7 linked regions of the Homo sapiens genome follow. The protein of the gene in region 5 purifies or fractionates together with the protein of the main gene of each other region. This does not show direct contact. Each region holds a gene or a part of one and is shown on either strand. Other genes may lie near its edges.

Region 1 (3,500 bases), on a different chromosome or scaffold from region 5:
ACTGTGTCTGGCCATTTTTAAACGTTTTTTAGGGAAAGTAAGTAATAGCTGGCGTTGTGGCTCACACCTGTAATCCCAGCACAGTGGCAGGATCACTTGAGCCCCGGAGCTCGAGATCAGCCTGGGAAATATGACACTCCGTCACTACAAAAAAAAAAATTAACCTGGTGTGGTGGTGCAAGCCTGTGGTTCCAGCTCTCGGGAGGCTGAGGTCAGAGGATCACTTGAACCTTGGATGTCAAGGCTGCAGTAAGCTGTGATTTTGCCACTGCACTCCAGCCTGGGTGACAGCAAGACCCTGTCTCAAAAAAGCAAAAAAAAAGTAACAATTAGAAAATTTCCTGTGATTCTTTTAAATTGTAGGACTCTTGAAGACTGTCTAATGTTTGTATATAGATCCTGGAACAAAGTAACATCTTTTTTTTTTTTTTTTCCCCAAAGTAACATCTTTTTTAAAGAACACAGTTCATTCATGGTTCATGGTGGGTTTTTCTCTGTTTTAAGTCTGAAGAGACAAAAAGTGTTTTACATATACTCTATAAATAGTGATTAGGAATTAAAGTTGTTTTCTGAGTGAAACTAAGAGTTGAGAGGACAGTACTCTTAAAATATCTCCCCATATGTTGATGAATCTCACCCCTCGGCATCATATTCTAGAAGGATTGAGCTGGGTATTGAAAGGTGAAGAGTGAGGTTTGGCTTTAATTTTCAGTGACCCAGATGCTAAAAGACCACAGATGGAAGCCGTAGTATTAGATCAGGACCTCACTAGGCTGTGCAGTAACCATCATGTTTTGTTTGCAACAGATAATTCGTGTCCAGTCCCCGGATGGAGTGAAGCGGATCACAGCAACAAAGAGAGAAACAGCAGCAACATTTTTGAAAAAGGTATCTGTGGCCTGGGTATTGACCCTCAGGATATTTTTCATCCTCTACTCTTACTGCCATCGATACCTTTTCTCTTTTCCTCGTTTTCTTATTTTCCCTATTCCCAAATTGCCTCTTGCATTGCCTTTCTCTATCACAGTTGGGTTGGATTGCTATAGGATGAGATGTTTGTCACAGCTGATCACTGCTCAAAATTATAGGACCAAGAGCCCAAAGGTAAGTGTAAAAATATTTCACGGCTGGGCGTGGTGGCTCACACCTGTAATCCCAGCACTTCGGGAGACCAAGGCGGGTGGATCACGAAGTGAGGAGTTCAAGACCAGCCTGGCCAAGATGGTGAAACCCCGTCTACTAAAAATACAAAAATTAGTCGGGCGTGGTGGTAGGTGCCTGTAATCCCAGCTACTTGGGAAGCTGAGGCAAGAGAATTGCTTGACTCAGAAGGCAGAGTTTACAGTGAGTCGAGGTGGTGCCACTGCACTCCAACCTGGGCAACAGAGTGAGACTCCATCTCAAAAAAAAAAAAAAAAAAGTATTTCATAAGAGTGGCCAGGCGCAGTGGCTGACGCCTGTAATCGCAGCACTTTGGGAGGCCGAGGCGGGCGGATCACAAGGTCAGGAGATTGAGACCATCCTGGCTAACATGGTGAAACCCTATCTCTAGTAAAAATACAAAAAATTAGCCGGGTGTGGTGGCGGGCACCTGTAGTCCCAGCTGCTGGTGAGGCTGAGGCAGGAGAATGATGTGAACCCAGGAGGCGGAGCTTGCAGTGAGCTGAGATCGCGCCACTGCACTCCAGCCTGGGCGACAGAGTGAGACTGTCTCAAAAAAAAAAAAAAGTATGAATTGTAGATATGACTACAGTTGACTCAAAGAATCATCCCTGGCTCCTCCCTGGTCTCCTGACCTGCATTGTGTCCAGGATTCCCATGACAGTTTTTCTTTTTTTAACCAATCACAAAATATTTCATTTACTGTGATAGTTGCATATTATGTACTTCTTAGCTTATCTTCACAGTTTCTTCCTTATTTACTTTTCCCATGGATTCCCCCAGACTATTTCTGTCTGGTGTTGTTTCTCTTCAGACTGAAAAACATCCATTAGCCTTTGTTGTAGGTAGGTTTGTTGGTCACAGACCTTTGGGTTTTTTTGACCTGAAAATGTTTTCGTTTTGCCCTGTGTTTATATGAGGGTTATTTTCTTTTTTTTTGAGATGGCATCTCACTCTGTTGCCCAGGCTGGAGTGCAGTGGCATGATCTCGGCTCACTGCAACCTCTGCCTCCTGGGTTCAAGCAATCCTCTGCCTAAGCCTCTCGAGTAGCTAGGATTACAGGCACCCGCCACCATACCTGACTAATTTTTTGTATTTTTAGTAGAGACGGGGTTTCACTATCTTCACCATGCTGGTCTTGAACTCCCGACCTCGTGATCCACCCGCTTCAGTGTGAGCCACCGTGCCCAGCCATGAAGGATATATTTTCTTTTTCTTTTTTTTTTCTTTTTTTTTTTATGAGAGGGAGTCTCGCTCTGTCTCCAAGGCTGGAATGCAGTGGCATGATCTTGGCTCACTGCAAGCTCCGCCTCCCGGGTTCACGCCACTCTCCTGCCTCAGCCTCCCGAGTAGCTGGACTACAGGCGCCCACCACCATGCCTGGCTAATTTTTTGTATTTTTAGTAGAGACGGGATTTCACCATGTTAGCCAGGATGGTCTTCATCTCCTGACCTCGTGATCTGCCCGCCTTGGCCTCCCAAGGATATTTTCATTCAATACAAATTTCTTTTTTTGAGATGGAGTCTTTTTCTGTCGCCCAGGCTGGAATGTGGTGGCGTGATCTCGGCTCAGTGCAACCTCCGCCTCCTGGGTTCCAGCAGTTCTCCTGCCTCAGCCTCCCAAGTAGCTGGGATTACAGGTGTGCACCACAATACCTGGCTAATTTTTGTTTTTGTTTTTTGAGACAGAGTTTCGCTCTTGTTGCCCAGGCTGGAGTGTGATGGCATGATCTTGGCTCATTGCAGCCTCTGCCTCCTGTGTTCAAGCAATTCTCCTGCCTCAGCCTCCCGGGTTCAAGCAATTCTGCCTCAGCCTTCCGAGTAGCTGGGATTACAGGCATACGCCACCAAGTCCGGCTAAGTTTGTCTTTTTAATAGAGATGGAGTTTCACCATGTTGGTCAGGCTGGTCTCGAACTCCTGACCTCAGGTGATCCACCCGCCTTGGCCTCCCAAAGTGCTGGGGTTACAGGCGTGAGCCACTGCACCTGGCCTCAAAACAGATTTCTGAGTTGACAGTTCATTTTTGTTCCCCACCATGCATCAATTTTTTTTTTTTTTTGAGACGGAGTCTTTCTGTTGCCCAGGCTGGAATGCAGTGGCGCGATCTCGGCTCACTGCAAGCTCTGCCTCCCAGGTTCATGCCATTTCCCTGCCTCAGCCTCCCGAGTAGCTGGGACTACAGGCACCCGCCACCATGCCCGGCTAATGTTTTTTGTGTTTTTAGTAGAGATGGGGTTTCACTGTGTTAGTGAGGATGGTCTCGATCTCCTGACCTCATGATCCGCCTGCCTCGGCCTCCCAATGTGCCGGGATTACAAGAGTGAGCCACCACACCT
Region 2 (3,500 bases), on a different chromosome or scaffold from region 5:
GAAAACTAAGGCCTTGCAAGCCTATGGCTTCACCCAGGGGTAGGATCAGGCACCTTAACTCTAGAGCCCATTCTCCTAACCACTGAGCCATGATTGTCTTACAATTTTGATACTGCAAAACTGGAAGAATTGTCTGGCTATTATCTAAGCTGTTCATAAGCTGAACAAGTAGATCTGAGGGTAAGAGGAGTTCTGTTTTAACTAGACTGAGTTTCAAATAGAGATGTTTCAGACTATAGAGGGGGAAAAATGGCCTGGGAAGATCATAAATCTAAGCCTGTTTCATTGATGTTTTTGTCATTTGCATCCAGTAGCTATTCAGCAAATATACCTATGGCAAAAAGGATATAAGTTATGGGTATAACTGAAATAATCCTGGGTTTAAAGCAAAGCTCTGATAAATACAGACGATGTTTCTCCAGGTGCCAGAAGATATGTTGAAGTTTGAGCTCAGACTGACCAAATGCTAGTTATGGGGTATGTGATAGCTCCAAGGTAGTAATATAAAGGCTATTTTAATTAGAAACTTTTGAGTAAATGGCCCTCAGGATAGTGATTTCTGTTTGAATGTCACTAACCTTTTTTAGTTACAGATCCCTATAATAATGCTTGAGTCTAGGCAGAACAACTTTGTGTTTATTCTTTGCAAAGGGTAGGGTAGTGCTAACAACCTGCTCTTCATTTGCTTTTTCTCCCCTTTGCCGATTCAGAATGCTGCTTTGTCAATTTGTGTGCCTGCTGTAGGAACTGGTCCGTTTTCCAAGTGTGACAGTGCAGGCAGAGAAGGGTGGATGAGCTGTAAATGCAGCCTAGAACACATTTGATTATAGAGAATGAAGCACTAATATCCCAATATAATTGGAGTTTAAAAAAAAAAAATACCACCTGGGCATCAATGTGTTTCCCTGCTTTGCATTTTCCCAGAACTATTTCTGCAAACATCAGTTTCCTCAGCCAACTTAATATTGAGTCACCAGAACGGAAATCAGCCATATTACTTCCTTATTTGTGTTGAAAATTGGAACAGAATGGAAATATTTCTTCCCTCAGAAGTTGGCAGGAACGGCAACAAGACAATCTGTTAGGGGTGACAGCTATAGGCTCTTCTCTTTTTTAAAAATAATATAGTCAATATTCAACATGGTTTTCTGGGGTAAAATCATCCACATTTCTGATTCTTTATGATCCTAGCAAAGCTTACATTCTGTATACCTGAAAGATGAAAAAGGAGTTGGATTAAACTTGAGTCTTACACTTATCTATTACATTTTTATTTATTAATGCTGAAGAAAGGTAATATAGGCTGGGCGCGGTGGCTCACGCCTGTAATCCCAGCACTTTGGGAGGCCGAGGCAGCCAGATCACCTGAGGTTGGGAGTTCAAGATCAGCCTGTCCAACATGGAGAAACCCCGTCTCTACTAAAAATACAAAAAATTAGCCAGGCGTGGTGGTGCATGCCTGTAATCCCAGTTACTTGCGAGGCTGAGGTGGGAGAATCGCTTGAACCTGGGGGGTGGAGGTTGCAGTGAGCCGAGATCTCACCATTGCGCTCCAGCCTGGGCAACAAGAGCGAAACTCCGTCACACACACACACACACACAAAAAGGAAAGGTAATAAAAAATTTTATCAAGTAACTTCATCCACAAACATAGTATAGCCCTTTTTAACTGATAAGAAGAAGGTGACACTTTGGTTTTCCTTTTTGAAATCTGTTCTTGGGTTTCAAATGTCAGCTGCTACATTAAAAACAGCAGGCATAATATATATATATATATTTTTTTTTCCAAATACAAATGCACGTACTCTTGTGTCTCCCATGGCATCTAATATACCTGCCTTAATGACCTCAGCCCACTTAACTGATTTGGTGAACAATTCTGCATCTGAGGCTGTATATGTGAGGAAAAATTAAAGGATTGGAAATGAAAGTAAAATAACTATAGTATAAAGGATCATATGTTCAAAGCATGCAGGCCTAATATTATAGGAAGTCCCAAACATATAAGTGAATTGCATTCCTAGAACTGACACATTTGTCTTTTCTCTGTTGCATTCACAATATAATTACATTTCAGTCACATTGTCTTAGATACAGTTGGCTGTTTCTGGGCTGTCTTTCAAGCTGGTTTGTAAATTCCTGAGGGTCTAGGACAGTGTCCTAATTCTCCTTAGCAACTCTTGCACCACCTACTGTACTTCATCTTCCACGATGGATCCTTGACCTAGCTGAGCTGTAGTTTTAAAGTCATTAGTCTAGAATGAGCAGAATGGTCATAGTCAATGCAGTTTGTGCTGCAAGTAGCAGAAACCCATTCAAGCTGACTTAGCAAAAAGGAGACTTAGTGTGAGGAAATAATAGTACCCTGATACCAAGGATGATTTGTTCTTCCCTCACTATTTTTTTCTGCTTTGTCACCTTCTTGGACACGTATCTTTGCCAGTGTTTTCTCTCACAGCTGCTGAACAGCCTGTTACCTGCAAATGGGTTATATCCGTTAGTCTTTCAAATCAGAAGTCCTCTGTGTTCAGGATGTACATGGTATGAGTGAAGTGCCCAGTATTAACTGGATGTGTAAGGCTATTGTGCAGCCTCTTTCTCTTGTGGCTCAAAATCAGTGTGCCAGGTTTCTTCTGCCATGTTTGGCCTAAGAGCAGTTTAAGGGAGTTTATAGTGTTTTCCTAAATCCTGTCTGGTAGGTAGAGGCAAATGGCTATGTCTGTACAACACAAGAACCACAAATCTTGGCCACATGGGCAGTTTGCTTGCCACACTCCACTGTGTAAGGAAGAGACTAGAGATCTATGATGAAGATTGCCTGGCAGCCACAGACACAGTTCAATAACTTTTTGTGAACTTAATCTTTTTTCTCCTGCCTAACCATTTCCGCATTTATTACGTGTTTGCACATTCATCTTCACTTTTGTGGTTTTAATTTTGAGTAAAATTTAATAAAGTTGTTTCTTTTTTTAAAAAAAAAAAAGGGTCACAGGAGTGCCAGGAAGTAGAATTCTATCAGGCACCAAAGCACCATGTATGAGTCTCTCTTTGTCTTTCTCCTGCTCCTCTTCCTGTCTTCCCACTCTCTCCCTTCCCCATCCCTCTTGTCCTTTCTTACAGCTTCTCCTTGTATGTGGCCCAAACCTGACTGCCTCAGCCCCCACATGCCTCCTTTTCCTCAAATGACCCTGACCCACAAGGGTCTCAATTCCAAGTTCCAAGAACAAAGATTCTATTAGCTTACTTTGCCAATAGGTTGTCTTCCTCCTAGACCCAAGAAGATAGGGATAGGGCTCAAAGAGGGGAGCCGTTGGGTAAGTAGATCACGACAAATCTTCTCTACCACAAACTGAGGACACATACAATGTCATATCATGGTTGGGATCCAAGCTCAGTTTACAATGCCTATATGCTCCATAATATTGCAAAATATTTGCAATGAGAAAAAGAAAAATGTGAAATTTTAAATTTAAGATTAAAACTGCATAATGGTGTCCCCT
Region 3 (3,500 bases), on a different chromosome or scaffold from region 5:
AGCACAGCATAAAAGTTCAGAAAATTTGCAACCTAACCATGAGGTAGAAAAGAAAAACCTATTTCTTGGGGGGAAATTCAAACCTGCTGCAGAAATTTGTATAAGTAACAAGGAGCCAAATATTAATAGCCAAAACAATGGGAAAAATGTATCCAAGGCATGTCAGAGACATTTGCAGAAGCCCCTCCCATCACAGGCCCAGCGGCCTAGGAGGGAAAAATGGTTTTGTGGGCCTGAGTGGCCCTGCTGCTCTGTGCAGCCTCAAGACATGGTGCCCTGCATCCAGCTGCTCTAGCTCCAGCCATGGCTAAAAGGAGCCAAGGTACAGCTCAAGCCATTGCTTCTGAGGGTGCAAGCCCTAAACCTTGGCAGCTTCCATGTGGTGTTGGGTCTGTGGGTACACAGAAGACAAGAAGAGTTTAGAAGACAAGAGTTTAACCTCCACCTAAATTTCAGAGGATGTATGGAAACACCTGAATGTCCAGGCAGAAGTCTGCTGCAAGGGAGGAGCCCTCATGGAGAACCTTTGCTAGGGCAGTACAGAAGGAAAATGTGGGGTTGAAGGCCCCACACAGTCCCCACTGGGGCACTGCCTACTGGAGTTGTGAGGAGAGAGCCACTGTCCCCCAGGCCCCAGAAAGGTAGATTCACTGACAGCTTGTATTGTACAGCTGGAAAAGCCACAGGCACTCAATGCCAGCCAGTGAAAGCAGCCATAAGGACTGCACCTTTCAGAGCTACAAGGGTAGAGCTGCCCAAGGCCATGGGAGCCTACCCCTTGGATGTGAGATATGGAGTCAAAGGAGATCATTTCAGAGCTTTAAGATTTAGTAACTGCACTGCTGGGTTTCAGACTTGCATGGGGCCTGTGGCCCCTTTGTTTTGGCCAATTTCTCCCATTTGAAACATTTAGCTAATGCCTATAGCCCTACTGTATCTTAGAAGTAACTAACTTGTTTTTTATTTTATAGGCTCATAGGCAAAAGGGACTTGCCTTGTCTCAGATGAGACTTTGGACTTGGACTTTTGGGTTAATGCTGGAATAAGTTAAGACTTTGGGGGACTGTTGGAAAGTCATGATTGGTTTTGAAATGTGAAAAAGACATGAAATTTGGGAGGCGCCAGGAGTGGAATGATATGGTTTGGCTTTATATCCCCACCCAAATCTCATCTTGAATTGTAATCCCCATGTGTCCAGGGAGGAACCCGGTAGGAAGTGATCGGATCATGGGGGCAGTTTCCCCCATGCTGTTCTTGTGATAGTGAGGGAGTTCTCAAAAGATCTGATGGCTTTAAAAGTGGCAGTTTCCCCTGCTTTCTCTCTCTCTCTTTCTCTCTCTCCTGCTGCCTTGTGAAGAAGGTTATCTACTTCCCCTTCACCTTCTGCCATAATTTTAAGTTTCCTGAGGCCTCCCCAGTCATGTGGAACTGTGAGTCAATTAAACCTCTTTCCTTTATAAATTACCCACTCTCAGGTATTTCTTTATAACAATGTGAAAACAGACTAATACAATACCTATCATTATTGACTTCTCAGCTTCTATCATTATCAAAAAGTAAATAATTGATTCATTTTTTAAAGTAAACAAGATTTTAACTCTTGAAATGTATAAGCAAATACATTTCCTCCATAACAGAATACTAATAGTTGTATACTTAGGTCAAAAATAAGTTTTTATAAGCAATGCTCAAAAACCTCAATGGATCAAATATGTTATAAAAATTCAGCAAATTGATAAACCTTGTTATTTGACTATGAGAACAAATTTTAACTCATTTTTAAATTGTGATAAGCCAACTCATTAGTCTGAAAATTAGAAATTAATATATTACATTGATTTATGTCATCTTTAAAGTCACTTTAACTCACTCTCAGTAGCACAGTGTTTTAAGTCAGAAAGCAGTGAAATAAAATTGTCAATTCACTCTTATTTTTCTATTCTCACTGAACTTTTAAAAATTTTTATTATATATTCAGCAGCATTAGAATAAGCAAAGCCAAAGGCATTTTATGGGACTCAAAAGACATAATGACCTCTGCAGACACCAGTTAAACAATAGACAGAAGAATTTGATTCCTACTTCGATGCTAGGTTTAGCAACCATTCACACAGATAATGTCCATGTTTTTCTTTCTTTTCATTTCACCAAGACCTTCACTCCTCAAAGCCTAAAATATATCTAAATCTTGGATTTCTCTTTTTTGCTTCATCTGACAACTTGAAAATTGACTGTTGGACACATAGCCATCAAGTGGTAAAGTGGGTAACTGGAAAAGTTCTAACTTGTTTTACATTTTTCAAACCCTATTATAATAAGAGCAAATAATAATACTAGCTCATATTTATTCAATGCTGGTCTGTGATACAGACTACTAATAAACTTAGTTTGCAAATAAAAACACTCAAGTTTAGGAAAAATATGTGACATACGCAAGGTCTCACAACAGGTAACTTACAAAGCTGGGATTCAAATCCAAGATTGACTAAAACCATGCTATACGTCTTTATTATATACTCTCTTCCACAGAAGAAAATGACCCATTAGTTGCTCTTCTATTTCACAACACAGCTTCCCTGAACATACTGGTGGAAAAAAAAAAAACAGAAATTGGCTATGTTCATTATCAACTTTTTTTTTTAATAACTTTCTTTTAAGACAGGGTCTCACTCTGTTGTCCAGGCTGGAGTGCAATGGCACGAACTCAGCTCACTGCAACCTCCACCTCCCATGCTCAAATGATTCTTGTGCCTCAGCCACCAAATAGCTGGGACTACAGGTGTGCACCACCACACCCAGCTAATTTTTTTATTTTTAGTAGAGGCGGGGTTTTCGCCATGTTGGCCAGGCTGGTCCCAAACTCCTGGCCTTCAGTGATCTGCCCACCTCGACCTTCCAAAGTGTTAGGATTACAGGCATGACTCACTGCACTCAGCCTCATTTATTAATTTATTCAACAAATATTTACTAGCTCCTTAAAACTCTCATTTGAGCTTAAATCCTTTTAAGTATTTTTGAGTATCTGGCATATGCAATGGACTGAATATATCCCCACAAAACCCACATGTTGAAATCTTAACCCCCCAGTGTAATGGTTTTAGGACGTAGGGCCTCTGGGGGGTAATTAGGTCATGAATGTAGAGCCCTCATGAATGGGATTAGTGCTCTTATAAAAGGGATTTCCCAAACCTCTCTCATTCTCTTTCCACCACCTGCAGATACAATGAAAAGACAGCAGTAGTCTTTGACCTAAAAGAGGGCCCTCATCAGAACCCAAACATGTGGGCACCCTGACCTTGGACTTCCAACCTCCAGAATAGTAAGAAATAAATTTCTGTTCTTTATAAGGCACCCAGTCTATAATACTTTGTTACAGCAGCCTGAACAGACTGAGGCAGAAACTGGTGCCAAGAATTAGGGGTGCTGCTGTAACAAATACCTAAAAAGGTTATCTTCATTTATTTTTCACATAACCAAGCAAAATATGTGAAACAGTAAAC
Region 4 (3,500 bases), on a different chromosome or scaffold from region 5:
ATGTTCAAAAATGCCATTGTTTTTTACATTGCTGCTATGAATCTCTCGAGAATACCTCCAAGTGTCGGATAATCAGAGAGATTCTTAGGCAAAATAGAAGAATTTCAAGTCTCAGAGTGAAGGTATCACACAAGGTTCATCTCAGGGTGAAGGCATCATGTAAATTACTAAGCAAAAGGCAAAGCACCACAAGACATAAGCACAAAGCATTTTGGCACACAGACAGCCACTGCAAATGGTGAGTCCAAAATGGACACTGAGAAGGCACCAGTGTAAAATGAGGATACCATGTGCAGGTTTCATTGGAAGTGCTCTTATTTCTCCAATGAACATCCTTATTAGAAACCAAGGTGTTCATTACTCTAATAAGAACATTAATGAATGTCTCTAGCATGGCTGGCTCTACCTTCTGCCTTGCTGATTGTTAGGAATAGCAAGTCAAGTCACTTGTGGCATAGCAGACAGAGAGATTGCTGGAAAGAATTAAGATGAGAAACTCCATCCTCCCCCAAGCCCCTCATCATCAGTAATGAGCCCCGTAGAGACTTAGGGAACCCTTGCTACATAAACTGCTGAGTTTTCAGGAAATAAAATAAGGAGACCCTGCCACCCTCTCTGTGAGATTTTCTTTGACTTTATCTGAAGTGCTAGGTACTAGTACTTCCCCAGGAAATATGTTGAAACAAGGGCTGCCCAAGCCATGCCCTTAGAAGGGAAGTGGCAAGGTTGGGATCTTTCTGCAGGTTTTCTTCTTCCCAAATGCAATGCATGAATCCGAATCTGCTGCTCACAGATTCCCAGATATATGCAGGAAGATACTACGGGAGTCATGTGAGAGGGAAAGGCACATATTGCAGGGTATTTATCCCTAGTCCTCCCACAAGGCAGCCAGTTATGAGAAGCATATAAGAAGATGAGAAAGAACTATATAGGCATGGTTGTCCTCTGGCTGTAGGTCAATGAAGCTTCTGGGCACACAGCAGAGCATCAGGAAGTCACCTGGGCTTCCTTTTAAAGTAGAAATTTATAATAAAATAGCTCAGCTTTTAAGAAGACTCAAGTCAACCTGAAGGGGTTTTCAACAAGTAACACTACCACCACCACCACCAAAAGGACTTATTAGCTAAGACCTGTGTGTGTGACATGATACTAGATGCTCTGTATCATGTACTTGGTCCTTACATTTTTCTGATTCACAGCTTGTAACAGAAACCTGTGTACCTGAAGACAGTGGAAAACAAACAGATGAGGTAACTTCATGTATCAATTATGAAGAAAAAGCTGAAAAAAAACCATAAATCATGCCAGCCAGCCCTAAGCCCTCATTTACTATGAATTTAGAGGACAATAGTCTAAAAATCCAACATTTTCAATGACAAAAACAGCACAGATCTGCACTGAAGAAATAACATACTACTTTATCCTTTTAAATGATCTTAAATTTAAAAACTAATACTATTACAGGAAAGATTTTTATTGGATCACTTCCCCCCAAAAGAGAACAAAAACAAAACAAAAAATTCATTTACACCAACACAAGACGCATGCATATTTAAAGAAGTAGATACGTGCAATTTTTAGCAACATGCAGTCAGTTTCAACATTCTTATACCTTAATCTTTGGTTCATCCTTTAATTTGTCCCTTTCTGGAATTCTGTCTATCTTCTTTAGCTTTTCTATATCTTTCCTTTTTCGTTTCTCTTCTTCTTTCCATTTCCTCCTCTCTTCTTCTCTTTGTCTTTTTCTTTCTATTTCTCTCCTCCTCCTTTCTTCTCTCTTTTCTTCTCTCATTCTCTAGAAAGAAACATCAACACAAGCCTTCAAATAAAATAATCATCACCAAAACCCTAATAAATCCTGAAGTCATGGTAGGCCCCAACTGAATAATCTTTCCTTCCTACTTTCTACAAAGTGGCATTCTACCACCGTTATCCCCACTCCACCCAGAAAACGAAAGACAATGAAGACCAGAACCTGCTAATATTATTCTTCCACTGCTGCCTTACTATCTCTCCAGAGGCTTTCAGAATATCAAATGAGTGTCTCTGGGACAACCTAAGAACATTCCACGTTTGTAGAGTGAACTCCTGGTCCAACAACCAGAGTGAAGGAGCAGGCTAGAGAGTGAGACCAAGAAGGCAAATCCTTAAAGAGTAATGGTGGAAAAAGCAGCTATTTCTCCTCTAGAAACCCAATGCTCTTAAAATGTTTATAGAATGCAAAGCAAAGAAATTAAAGTATTGAGAGAACTATAAAGACAAAAGATTTACCTGCTTGTTTTTCAGGAAGCTCAAAAGTGGGGTTGTCTTTTTAGCTACATAAATGTAAACAGATTATTAATCATACTTATCAACCCCTAGAAACGATTCCATTTTCTGACATTCCCTGCCAACCACCCAAGGTGGGAAAACATGTACACCCCTTATGCAGAAAGATCACAATTGTAATATCAGAAAGAAGTTTTACAGCATTCGATTTCAACAATACGGGATTAAAATACCTTTTAAAAAGTAAAGAAATTCAAATTAAAACAACAAAATAATTTATTAAAAGAGTCATTCCCAACTGATGAGAATTAAGTACTTAGGACATTCTCTTGTTTTACTGATAGGAGTGTAAACTTGTTCAACTGGAAGAAGTTGGGGGGAAGGGGCTAAAAATATCTAATCCTTTTGACCCCATAATTCCACTTCTGGGAATTTATTCTAAGAAAGTTACCAGAAATAGGCTTGTACTATCCATCTATTAATAAAAGTCAAGTTTTGGAAGAATATTTTTCATTTTCAACATTCTGAATAAGCTATTGGCCTTACAGCCATCTTAAAACACATATTCCTGGCCGGGCACAGTGGCTCATGCCTGTAATCCCAGCACTTTCAGAGGCCAAGGCAGGCGGATCACTTGAGGTCAGGAGTTCGAGATCAGCCTGGCCAACATGGTGAAACCCCGGCTCTACTAAAAATACAAAATTGGCCGGGCGTGGTGGCGGACACCTGTACTTCCAGCTACTCGGGAGACTGCGGCAGAATCGCCTGAACCCAGGAGGCGGAAGTTGCAGTGAGCCGAGATTGCGACACTGCACTCCAGCCTGGGCGACAGAGCAAGACTCCATCTCTCACACACACACACACACACACACATACACACACACACACACACACACACAGAGAGAGAGCGAGCGAGCAAGCAAGCAAAAAAAACAAACAAACAAACAAAAAAACCCCACATATTCCTTAGGATAAATTCCTGAGTAGAAATCCTGGGTCAAAGATTATGCTCATGTTTAGAGCTACTGATACAGTAGTGACAGCCTATTACTGAGAACCAAGATCCAAGCTAGAATTCCTCAAGTAGTTTTCAATTTTGCAGTAACTAATTTCATTTTTTCGTATTTTCAAGTCAAAATTTTTTTAGGAATATGAACTTATTACTAGAAAATACCAATTGACCTTCAAAGGCTTACCACTGTCTAAACATTCCTTATCAGTCATCGAACTTT
Region 5 (3,500 bases):
GGTCTCCCTGGTCATGGCATCCTCCCAGCCTCTGCAGTCTGTACACACTCTCCCAGCAGCATGCCTTTGCCCCAGCTGTCTCCCGTGCCTGGGACACCTTGCAGCCACGGGCCATCACAGCCCTGCTGGGAGCTTCCCCAAGCCCCACGTAGAATTTCTTCTTGCCCTCACTAGAGTGGTCCGGAGCCCTAGAGTCTTTGGGCAGTTGTTGGGGCGGACAGAGTGAGGACTCAAGTCTGGCCCTGACTTGCGGTGAAGGGTGGTGGGAGGTGGTGGGGTAAGGGCAGCCTGGGGAGGCTTGGACACAGAATTGGGGGTGATATGGGGTCATTCAGCTGGATGTGACCAGCACCAACGTCCCAGGGGCATTCCTGGAGTAACAGAGCCCCTCACTCTGGCGCCCACTCACCTTGGCAGCCCAGCCCCACTCCTGAACACTCTCATGCCCCTTCTTGCAGTCGGCCCGCCGCTGCTCACCCTGGTGAACTTTGAAGTGGAAAATCTGGCGTACATGCTGGTGTGCATGCAGTGGGCGGTGAGTGGGGTTGCCCAGGACCCCGGGCATACGGCTGCCGTGGCAGGAGGTGGTGCCTCGGGGGACAGTACCTGCCCATGAAGGCAAACAGGGTGCACATGTGCGTGCAACAGTGTGGCTCACATGTATGCGTGCAACAGTGTGGCTCACATGTGTGCGCGCAGCAGGAGAGCGAGTGTGCCCGTGACTGTACGTGTGGTGGGGGGGGGTTGAGGAACAGGGGGGGTGTGGGTCTCTCTCGGTGAGGGTGTCTTCCCAGGAGGAGTTGCTGGGCTGACTCTGCCAGGCATCTGTGTCCCTGGCAGGGTCTTCCCCAACACACCCTGCATGACACCTTCGTCACTAAAATCAGCCTCGTGAGCTGGCAGGGCAAGGACCCTGTTCCTTTACTCAGCTGAGAAAACCAGAGAGGGTGGTGGCCTGTCCTGGGCTCTGAGGCAAATCAGGCAGAAGGGTTGGATGCCTGAGGTCCTCCTCCCACCCACCAGGCCTCCAGACCTCCGGGCACCTGGAGACCTCTCGGTATCGCCTCTGCCCTCCTCTGCAGGATTTGCTCTGGGCCGCCAGCTTCTATGCCCGCTTCTTCTTATCCTACCTCCCCTTCTACGGCGTCCCTGGGGTGCTGCTCTTCTTTGTTGCTGTCAGGTATGGCAGGGAGTGGCGAGGTCACACACAGGCGACAGGTGACCCCCACTGCAGCCCCCCACCAGAGCTTCCCTTTTCCCGTCTGCAGAATGGGGCCAGTGGTACTGCCTCCCTGGCTTGCTGGTGGAATCACATAAACACAAGCGTGGCAGGAGCCCAGGGTCGGTGGGTTTAGGGAGCGTGGCCTGGCTTGTAAGTGGCCCGGTGGGTGTCGGAGCTGCTCTGGACTCAGCCTCACAGTGGACACTGCTCCATTCAGATTCTTTAAACACTGGCAAGGGGGCGATGGCCACAATCCTATTGTACAGATAAGGAAGTCAAGGCCACTTGGGGACAGCTGCTCTCCAGCCTCCACTCAGGGTGCCTAAGTGGTGAGCTGGACCTAGGGCAGTGCCCGAGCCTCCCCACAGGGTCCTGGAAAGCCACTGGTTCGTGTGGATCACACAGATGAACCACATCCCCAAGGAGATCGGCCACGAGAAGCACCGGGACTGGGTCAGCTCTCAGGTGGGCAGCAGGGGTGGGGCCCATCCTGGGTGGGGTGGGGGGTCCCAGCTAGGAGCCAGATGGCAAAGCAGGGATGAGGCCCTGACGGGGCTGCCAGGTGGGGGATGGTGCCGTGGGGTCAGGGATCTGCAACGGCCTCCTCACATGTGCCCCGCCGGCTTCCGGCAGCTGGCAGCCACCTGCAACGTGGAGCCCTCACTTTTCACCAACTGGTTCAGCGGGCACCTCAACTTCCAGATCGAGCACCAGTGAGTGTGGGTGCTGGGGGCCAGTGGGAGGTGGGGAGGGGGTCCTGGGAGGGGATCCTGGGAGGGGACCCGTGGGTGGGGCCTCTCTCTGGAATCTCCCACTTCAGGTGCCAGCATACGCTCCCCACCCCCAGCCTCTTCCCCAGGATGCCGAGACACAACTACAGCCGGGTGGCCCCGCTGGTCAAGTCGCTGTGTGCCAAGCACGGCCTCAGCTACGAAGTGAAGCCCTTCCTCACCGCGCTGGTGGACATCGTCAGGTGAGGCTGCAGCCCGGCCCCTCTGTTCTGGTGGCTTCCCCAGGGCCTATGCCTACCCTTGTCCAGGTCAGCCTCATGCTGAGCCCCCAGGGTCCCTGAGCCTTTCTGTCCACGTCCCATGCCCTTCCTCCCTTCCCCAGCCTTCACGCACACAGTGAGAATTTCTGGAGCACCTACTGCAGACTCACAAACAGCAGTGCCTGCGGTGAGCAGGTCTATGCAAACCTACCCCCAAAGGCTGAGGGAAAGAAGCTAACAGATCCAGTTTCTCAGAAGGAAACACTTAACAGGGACTCATAAACAGAAGCCATGTCTCAGGGCCGGGTGCGGTGGCTCACGCCTGTAATTCCAGCACTTGGGGAGGCTGAGGTGGGCGGATCACTTGAGGTCAGGAGTTCGAGACCAGCCTGGCCAACATGGTGAAACCCCGTCTCTACTAAAAAAAAAAAAAAAAAAAAAAAAAAAAAAAAACAAAAATTAGCTGGGTGTGGTGGCAGGTGCCCATAATCCCAGCTACTTGGGAGGCTGAGGGAGGAGAATCACTTGAACTCGCAGGGGCGGAGGTTGCAGTGAGCTGAGATTGTGCCTTTGCAGTCCAGCCTGGGCAACAGAGCAAGACTCTCTCAAAAACAAACAAAAAAACCATGTCTCAGGCAGCCAAGAGTTGGGACATCCCCTCACACGCCCTCTAGAAAGAACCCTCTATATAGCAAGCTTTTAGGGTGAACCCCATGCAGGTGGTTCTTATGAACCTGGTGACCACTGGAGGTTAGATAAGCGTCTACAAGAGGAGGTTATCTATGCCATGAGCTTGGCATTCAGGGTCAAGCATCGGTCATCAGACAGTTTTGCTTGAAGATGGCATTGCCCTTGTAGCAATGCAGGCTCTAGAGAGCTTCCTGCCCTCTTGGAGCTGATGTTCCTTCCAGCAAAGGAAACAGCAAGCAATTAAAATAACAAATAAGTACATTACAGAAGATGGGCAAAAGAACAATGAAAAGCCCCTCAGGGTGGGGACAGGGGAGGGGAGGGGGGCGGCCAGGCAGGGGCGGCAGTTTCTAAATAGGTGGTAGGGTGGGCAGTATTGACAGGCTGACGTGTGAGCAGGGACAGGGAGGAGGGGAGAGGTCTCGCCACAGGGACATCTGGCAAAGAGCGTTCAGGCAGAGGGCACTTGACCCTGAATGCCAAGCTCATGGCATAGATAGCCGAGGCAGGCATGCAGGCACTCAGAGAAGGGACACGCCCGGCTTGCATCTTGGAAAGCTGCCCCTACTGGGAATGACTGGCGGGCAGGAGTCGAAG
Region 6 (3,500 bases), on a different chromosome or scaffold from region 5:
CATTTTTGTAGGGATATATCATTCAGAAAAGAGAAATAAAACCAAGCTTGGAAGCAGATAAACCAGTTGAAGACATACTGACGTAAGCATATAGGCATGGGTCAATTTGCTTTGGATGTTTGTTAATGTTCTCGAATGTGATATAATAAATATGTTTTACAGGTATGAGGAATTTCATCCTTTCTTGTTTTCTCAACATTCACAATGTCCATATATAGAATTTGAATCATTTGACAAGGTGGGTTTTCCGTTCTGTTCCTTTACCAGTTAGTTAGCATGATATGAGCTGTTGATATCAACTTGCTTCTATTGAGAAACTGAAACTATACTTGCTTTACATTCACTGTGAATCTGGGCATTAAAGATCAGTGTCGTCACAGATACAGCTGTTGGAAATAATTGTTGCCACTTTATTTCAGGATGAAGGACCAGAGGTTTGAACTTCATTTGATTCTTGATACTGTTTAGCCATATAATACATTTACCGGAAATCTGTTCAAGTTCTTTGAGTGGTGTTATGAAACACAATGGAATCTAAAATTCTGTGTATGCAGCTGGGCTTGCTGGCTCATGCCTATAATCTCAGCATTTTGGGAGGCCAAGGCAGGCAGATCAGTTGAGGTCAGGAGTTCAAGACCAGTCTGGCCAACACAGTGAAACCCTGTCTCTGAAAAACTACAAAAATTAGCGGTGTGTGGTGGGGTGCACCTGTAGTCCCAGCTGTTTGAGAGGCTGAGGCAGGAGAATCACTTGAACCTCGGAGGTGGAAGTTGCAGTGAGCCTAGATCGCGCCACTGCAGTCCCGCCTGGGCAACAGAGTGAGACTCTGTCTCAAAAAAAAAGAAAAAAAAAATAAAATTCTGTGTATGCAAGTTGAAGTAGAGACTGTGCTTTTTTTTCCAACTAGTTGTTTGTTTTTTTAATAAGGCGGTGGATGAATTTTATTCCAAGATAGAAGGCCAGAAAATTGACTTAAAAGCTTTACAACAGGTATGTATTATTAAAAACACATATTAAACCAGCTAGTCTTTAGCGGCTTGATGGGTAGATGATATAGGAAAGGGTAGCCTTTCAGAAAGAGTGTAAGAAGTAGTATGGGAACTCTCTGACCTGCCTCTTTATTTATGATAAAGGTTTATGAAGAAGGTCCATGGGGGATTTTATTGTTGAAAAGTATGTCCTCATTTGTTTCATGAGTATTTCAGATATTCTGTAAAAAAAGGAAAATACGGTGGGAACGTGAGGCCTGTTATTTACACCTTAATGTGGTTTGCTCAGAACAACCCAAAGCTTCTCAAACATTGCTGTTAAGGAGATACTGTTTTAGGGAGATTTTAAATAGGCCAGAGGAGGGGATATTGTTTATCATTAAACTGTTTCTTTTTTAAATGGACTTTAAAGCCAAGTCTTAATATGTTTTCTGTGTATCATGACTCCAAAAGAAGTGATATACAGTATTTTCCCAGCACATTTGACCATGTTTTTAGAGCATTTGCTGCAGAACAGTTTCATAAATTGTTAATAGTCACTCTTGATTTGAAGGGGATTTGATTTTTTCAAAAACAGTCTTAAAATATGTGTGCAAAAATTTCAAATTATTTGAGGCTGGGCGCGGTGGCGCACGCCTGTAAATCCCAGCACTTTGGGAGGCCGAGGCGGGCAGATCACTTGAGGTCAGGAGTTCAAGAACAGCCTGGCCAGCATGGTGAAAACCTGTCTCTGCTGGAAATACAAAAATTAATGGGGTGTGGTATGGGTGTCCAGCTACTCAGGAGCCTGAGGCACAAAAATTGTTTGACCCTGGGAGGCGGAGGTTGCAATGAGCTGAGACTGTGCCACTGCACTCCAGCCTGGGTGACAGAGTGAGACTCTGCCTTAAAGAAAAAAAAATCAAATTGTTTGAATCCCTGTACCACTTCCTCTTCAGTTTTTAAAAATTAGTTAATCATAGCACAATTTCAAAGCAGGTAGGCCAGTCAGATGAATTATATACATCATGTAATTACCACATGGTGGCAGCACTTTGGCTAGTAAACTGAACCCCATGGTTTCATGGGTGTCAAAATACTAGTGATTTATTTTGGTAATTATTTTGTGGGTTTTAATAGTCATCATTCTTATCTAAATTTTAAAAAATATTTCATCTAGCATTTAAATACTCATTAATTGATGATATTACTAGTGTTAGAAATTTTGTCCCCCAATTGATAACCTTGAAATGTAAAGTATATATGATAAAATGCCAAATAACTACCATGAGCCTTTGTCTTATTAATTTAGGGGAAAAAGTTTCTGTAAAATACTGGAAATAGTTGTGAGAAAATCAAAAGTAGCAAAAAATACAAAGTCATTTGGTAATTTATGCTCTTTGGGAATTCATTCCCTGCCAGGTGCAGTGGCTCAGGCCTGTAATCCCAGCACTCTGGGAGGCCAAGGTGGGAGGATTGAGCTCAGACATTGGAGAGCAGCCTGGGCAACATAGCGGGACCCGGTCTCTATTATTTAAAAAAAAATAAAGAATTCGTTCTCCCAAACTTTACTTTTGTGCCATAGGAAAAAATGTCTTGATTTCTGCCTGTTTGAATAATGCCAAGGGTATTAGGGGTATATCTTATATACACAGTAACCTGTAATCAAAATACCTTTCTATATAAGGAGTGGGAGTTAGGAAGACAGGAGAAGTAATTTTGGGGCATGGAACGCATTGTAGTGGGATAGGCCTAGGGTGGTAGACTATGGGAACTTCAGCTAGCTAGATAACAGCATAGATGGGGTCAGGATAGTGAGTGTTGGGAAGTAAGAGAGGGATGTCATGAGGTAGGAGAAATCTAATTTTTAAAAAATCTGTTTTGCCAATAAAAGGAAAAGCAAGCATTGAAGAAATTAGATAATGTTCGAAAGGATCACGAAAACAGATTGGAAGCTCTTCAGCAGGCTCAGGTATTATGTTTGGCTTTCTCAGTGCTTTTTCAAAAATGTTAACTTTAACTGGCAATGTAGTAAATGTGTGTGGTTTGTTTTTTAAGGAAATAGACAAACTGAAAGGAGAGCTCATAGAAATGAACCTACAAATAGTTGACAGAGCCATTCAGGTAGTTCGAAGTGCTTTAGCTAACCAGATAGATTGGACAGAAATTGGGTTAATTGTGAAAGAAGCCCAGGCTCAAGGAGACCCTGTTGCAAGTGCAATCAAAGAATTAAAACTACAAACAAACCATGTTACAATGCTGCTAAGGTAAGTTTGACTCTTAGTCAAGCAGTTAATGCTTGTCTTTATTTTGTTATTTTAATTGTTCACTGTATTAAACATTTTTTCTTCATATTTTGAAATTCTCAAAGAAAGGGAAAAAACTAATTTAGATTAAAATAAATAATGAAACTTCCAGTACTGTAAACCATTTATAATTTTATTGAAGAAGAAAATTGAAAATAAAAGTGATGTCATTGACGTTAGTGAAATGCTATTGAATATTTTTAATAGAAATCCATACTTGTTATCA
Region 7 (3,500 bases), on a different chromosome or scaffold from region 5:
TATTTCTAAAGAAATATTTCACCGAAATTAGTAGGCTACAATAGAAATGCTGATTTTTCAATTCTACCATGTACAGCCAGTAAAAACAATAACACACCACTATCTCCTGTCACCATCATTTCATTTAACAAAAGGATATTTCCATTCAAACAATTTGAAAGAACAGAATCTCTCAGAATAAAATATTTTTAAATGGAATCATTTAGCTATATGGAAAAGTTTACTTTCAGACCAGCCTGGCCAACATGCTGAAACCCCGTCTCTACTAAAAATACAAAACAAGCTGGGCGTGGTAGCATGCACCTGTAATCCCAGCTACTCGGGAGGCTGAGGCAGGAGAATCACTTGAACCTGGGATGCAGAGGTTGCAGTAAGCCAAGATCGCGCCATTGCACTCCAGCCTGTGTGACAGAACGAGACTCTGTCTTTAAAAAAAAAAAAAAAAAGTTTACTTTCGTGTCCTTACTTTTTCCCATTTTCCCATAAATCGGTGAAAACTCTGCTGCAAACCTGCACCAGCCTGCCAGCTAACATTCAGTTAGCAGTCCCTGCCCCCTTGGTTTGGTACACTGAGCTCAAATCTAAGGGATCTGGGTGGGCTTCCACCTCTCCCAGTTCTTAGGCTTGTGGCCTTATCTTCATGGTGCCTCAGTTTCTTATGTTAAATAGGGCTTTTAACACCTACTTAGGGCCTGGTGCAGTGGCTCACACCTGTAATCCCAGCAGTTTGGGACGCTGACACCTGGCAGACCTCTTGAGCTCAGGAGTTTCAGACCAGCCTGGGCAACAGGGCAAAACCGTGTCTTTACAAAAAATACAAACGTTAACCGGGCATGGTGGCGCATGCCTGTATTTCCAGCTTCTTGGGAGGCTGAGGTGTGAGGATCACTTGAGCCTGAGAGGCTGAGGTCTGCAGTGAGCCATGATGGTGCCACTGCACTCCAGCCTGGGTGGTAGAGAGAGACCCTGTCTCAAAAAAAGAAAAACAAAAAAACCTACTTTGCCAGATTAGTGTTACGATGAAAAGTGATACATGTATGTTCCTGAAATAAAGCCTGTCCTCAGTTATAGCTGTTACCATTGATTGGAGATGTTCTTTTTTTTCCAGTGTTTGATAATAAATGCCTTTAAGTATAAGTTTCTTGTACATACTTGTTTATATGTTTAAACATTAATTGTTTTAATGTAGTTTATTGCTGACTTTATAGCATAGTATAAAGATGTGTTCATTTAAAACAATTTTGAAGTTGTGCAAGAGAAACTAATGCAGAATATTCTTTTTTTTTTTTTTGATGGAGTCTCGCTGCTCTGTCACCCGGACTGGAGTGCAGTGGCATGATCTCAGCTCACTGCAACCTCCACCTCCCGGGTTCAAGCGATTCTCCTACCTCAGCCTCCCAAGGAGCTGGGATTACAGGTGCCCACCACCATGCCCGGCTAATTTTTGTATTTTTAGTAGAGACAGGGTCTTGCCATGTTGGCCAGGCTGGTCTTAAACTCCTGACCTCAGGTGATCTGCCTGCCTCAGCCTCCGAAAGTGCTGAGATTATAGGCATCAGCCACCGTGTCCAGCTGTAATATGCAGAATATTCTATGTAGGTATTTTCTATATATAAGACCCCCTCTAAGAAGGGTTTCTATGTAAGAATAGTACAAATGATCTGGAAAGGTTAATAGGCTTGACAAATCTATGTTTCTTAAAACTGTAAAAATAGTCTGGTTGTCCTATGGTCTATGTATAGAACATATACCATAGGGGATTGGTTTCAGGACCCCTGTTTTTACTGAGATCCTGGCATACTCAAGTCCCCACTGTGGGCCCTGCAGAACCTGAATGTGAAAATTTGGGCCTCCATATATGCAGGTTTCGGTCTGCATTTGGTTGAAAAAGATCCACGTATAAGTGAGCACACACAGCTTAAACCCGTGTTGTTCAAGGGTCCACTGCATTTGAAAATCAAGTCCATAAAAAAGTTGCCTTATTTTACAAAATGTCGGATTACTACCTCTCCCATATCTTAAAAAAAAAGTACCATCTATTTACTACCCCATTGAGATAATAAAACTTTTAGAATTAGAATAGAACCTAGGGCTGGGCATAGTGGTTCACGCCTGTAATCCCAGCACTTTGGGAGGCTGAGGTGGGTGGATCACCTGAGTTCAGGAGTTTGAGACCAGCCTGGCCAATATGGTGAAACCCCTTGTCTACTAAAAATACAAAAAATTAGCCGGGCATGGTGGTGGGCACCTGTAATTCCAGCTACTCGGGAGGCTGAGGCAGGAGAATCACTTGAACCCGGGAGGTGGAGGTAGCAGTAAGCCGAGATTGTGCCACTGCCCTCCTGCCTGGGCAATAAGAGGGAAACTCTGTCTTACAAAAAAAAAAAAGAACCTAGAAGTATTTACTGCTCTTTGCTTTGTCTGAGACTCAGAGGTTAAGTGACTTGCCCAAGATAGCACAGGTAGTAGCAAATTGAGACTTGACACCTGGCTTCCAGAGTACTTATTTAAAGTCCCCTTTGCACCCCCATTTTAAAAATTAAATTCTTGGCTGGACGCAGTGGCTCACGCCTGTAATCTCAGCACTTTGGGAGGCCGAGGTGGGCGGATCACGAGGTCGGGAGATCAAGACCATCCTGGCTAACATGGTGAAACCCCGTCTCTACTAAAAATACAAAAAAAATTAGCCAGACATGGTGGCACACGCCTGTAGTCCCAGCTACTTGAGAGGGGCTGAGGCAGGAGAATCACTTGAACCCGGGAGGTGGAGGTTGTGGTGAGCTGAGGTCGTGCCACTGCACTCCAGACTGGGTGACAGAGTGAGACTCTGTCTCAAAAAAAAAGAAAAATTAAATTCTTGTCTAGGTAAGGCATTCGCTGCTTCGGATTTGAAAGATAACAAAGCATGTACAGTGAAAAGTCTCCTTCATATCCCTTCCACCAGACAGTTCTCCCGCTCAGTAGACCGCTGTGAAACTTTTCAGAGCCGTTTGACACATAGACAAACATCCACGTGACCATATGATTCCTCCCTTTTTTTAACATGGAAGTATCACGTATGCATCCTTATTGATAGCCTGCTTTTTGCTTGGCATTCGTTCCATTGCTCCCATACTTTAAATGCTTATGTTCATATTTAGTGAAATGTTAATAACTGCTAGTACGTAAAAGAGAATTTGTTCTAGTAGTTTTGACTAACCAAGATAAATTTCAGAAATAAAATTCTTAACATTATCATTGTTTCTTGGTATGGAAATTTCAGAAGCAGGTTGAACTGAAAAGAGTCCAAGAGGAATAGAGAAATATCACAAGGAAGTGAATCTGGACTGTAGTAGAGATAAATGTTAATACTTACAGATAATGCTTACTATGTGCTAGGCAGTGTTCTAAATGTTTTGCATACATTATTGAAGTCTCTCAAGAGTCCCATGAGGCAGGTAGCTTTTATCACCATTTTACACATGAGAAAACTGAGCAACGCAGACTAACACTTGATCCAG

Evidence for each region.
Region 1: the proteins of FADS3 (region 5) and NPLOC4 purify together in Homo sapiens (affinity purification with mass spectrometry; one large-scale study listed by BioGRID and IntAct). This does not show direct contact.
Region 2: the proteins of FADS3 (region 5) and MFAP3 purify together in Homo sapiens (affinity purification with mass spectrometry; 2 studies listed by BioGRID and IntAct, with this or other methods). This does not show direct contact.
Region 3: the proteins of FADS3 (region 5) and PEX7 purify together in Homo sapiens (affinity purification with mass spectrometry; one large-scale study listed by BioGRID and IntAct). This does not show direct contact.
Region 4: the proteins of FADS3 (region 5) and UPF3B purify together in Homo sapiens (affinity purification with mass spectrometry; one large-scale study listed by BioGRID and IntAct). This does not show direct contact.
Region 6: the proteins of FADS3 (region 5) and NEMF purify together in Homo sapiens (affinity purification with mass spectrometry; one large-scale study listed by BioGRID and IntAct). This does not show direct contact.
Region 7: the proteins of FADS3 (region 5) and VKORC1L1 purify together in Homo sapiens (co-immunoprecipitation; one large-scale study listed by IntAct). This does not show direct contact.

Annotation. Positions count from the first base shown.
Region 1 is NC_000017.11:81,627,113-81,630,612, reverse strand, and holds part of NPLOC4 (nuclear protein localization protein 4 homolog), read left to right. Parts: intron 1-807; coding exon 808-888; intron 889-3,500. UniProt on the Homo sapiens protein: The ternary complex containing UFD1, VCP and NPLOC4 binds ubiquitinated proteins and is necessary for the export of misfolded proteins from the ER to the cytoplasm, where they are degraded by the proteasome.
Region 2 is NC_000005.10:154,041,967-154,045,466, forward strand, and holds part of MFAP3 (microfibril-associated glycoprotein 3 isoform 1 precursor), read left to right. Parts: intron 1-3,500. UniProt on the Homo sapiens protein: Component of the elastin-associated microfibrils.
Region 3 is NC_000006.12:136,829,092-136,832,591, reverse strand, and holds part of PEX7 (peroxisomal biogenesis factor 7), read right to left. Parts: intron 1-3,500. UniProt on the Homo sapiens protein: Receptor required for the peroxisomal import of proteins containing a C-terminal PTS2-type peroxisomal targeting signal. Specifically binds to cargo proteins containing a PTS2 peroxisomal targeting signal in the cytosol.
Region 4 is NC_000023.11:119,839,464-119,842,963, forward strand, and holds part of UPF3B (regulator of nonsense transcripts 3B), read right to left. Parts: intron 2,316-3,500; coding exon 2,272-2,315; intron 1,796-2,271; coding exon 1,613-1,795; intron 1,222-1,612; coding exon 1,183-1,221; intron 1-1,182. UniProt on the Homo sapiens protein: Involved in nonsense-mediated decay (NMD) of mRNAs containing premature stop codons by associating with the nuclear exon junction complex (EJC) and serving as link between the EJC core and NMD machinery.
Region 5 is NC_000011.10:61,874,546-61,878,045, reverse strand, and holds part of FADS3 (fatty acid desaturase 3), read left to right. Parts: intron 1-458; coding exon 459-535; intron 536-1,082; coding exon 1,083-1,180; intron 1,181-1,590; coding exon 1,591-1,687; intron 1,688-1,855; coding exon 1,856-1,935; intron 1,936-2,042; coding exon of another isoform or gene 2,043-2,069; coding exon 2,070-2,195; intron 2,196-3,500. UniProt on the Homo sapiens protein: Mammals have different sphingoid bases that differ in their length and/or pattern of desaturation and hydroxyl groups.
Region 6 is NC_000014.9:49,828,789-49,832,288, reverse strand, and holds part of NEMF (ribosome quality control complex subunit NEMF), read left to right. Parts: intron 1-11; coding exon 12-82; intron 83-162; coding exon 163-238; intron 239-927; coding exon 928-990; intron 991-2,862; coding exon 2,863-2,940; intron 2,941-3,026; coding exon 3,027-3,235; intron 3,236-3,481; coding exon 3,482-3,500. UniProt on the Homo sapiens protein: Key component of the ribosome quality control complex (RQC), a ribosome-associated complex that mediates the extraction of incompletely synthesized nascent chains from stalled ribosomes as well as their ubiquitin-mediated proteasomal degradation.
Region 7 is NC_000007.14:65,876,074-65,879,573, forward strand, and holds part of VKORC1L1 (vitamin K epoxide reductase complex subunit 1-like protein 1), read left to right. Parts: intron 1-3,500. UniProt on the Homo sapiens protein: Involved in vitamin K metabolism. Can reduce inactive vitamin K 2,3-epoxide to active vitamin K, and may contribute to vitamin K-mediated protection against oxidative stress.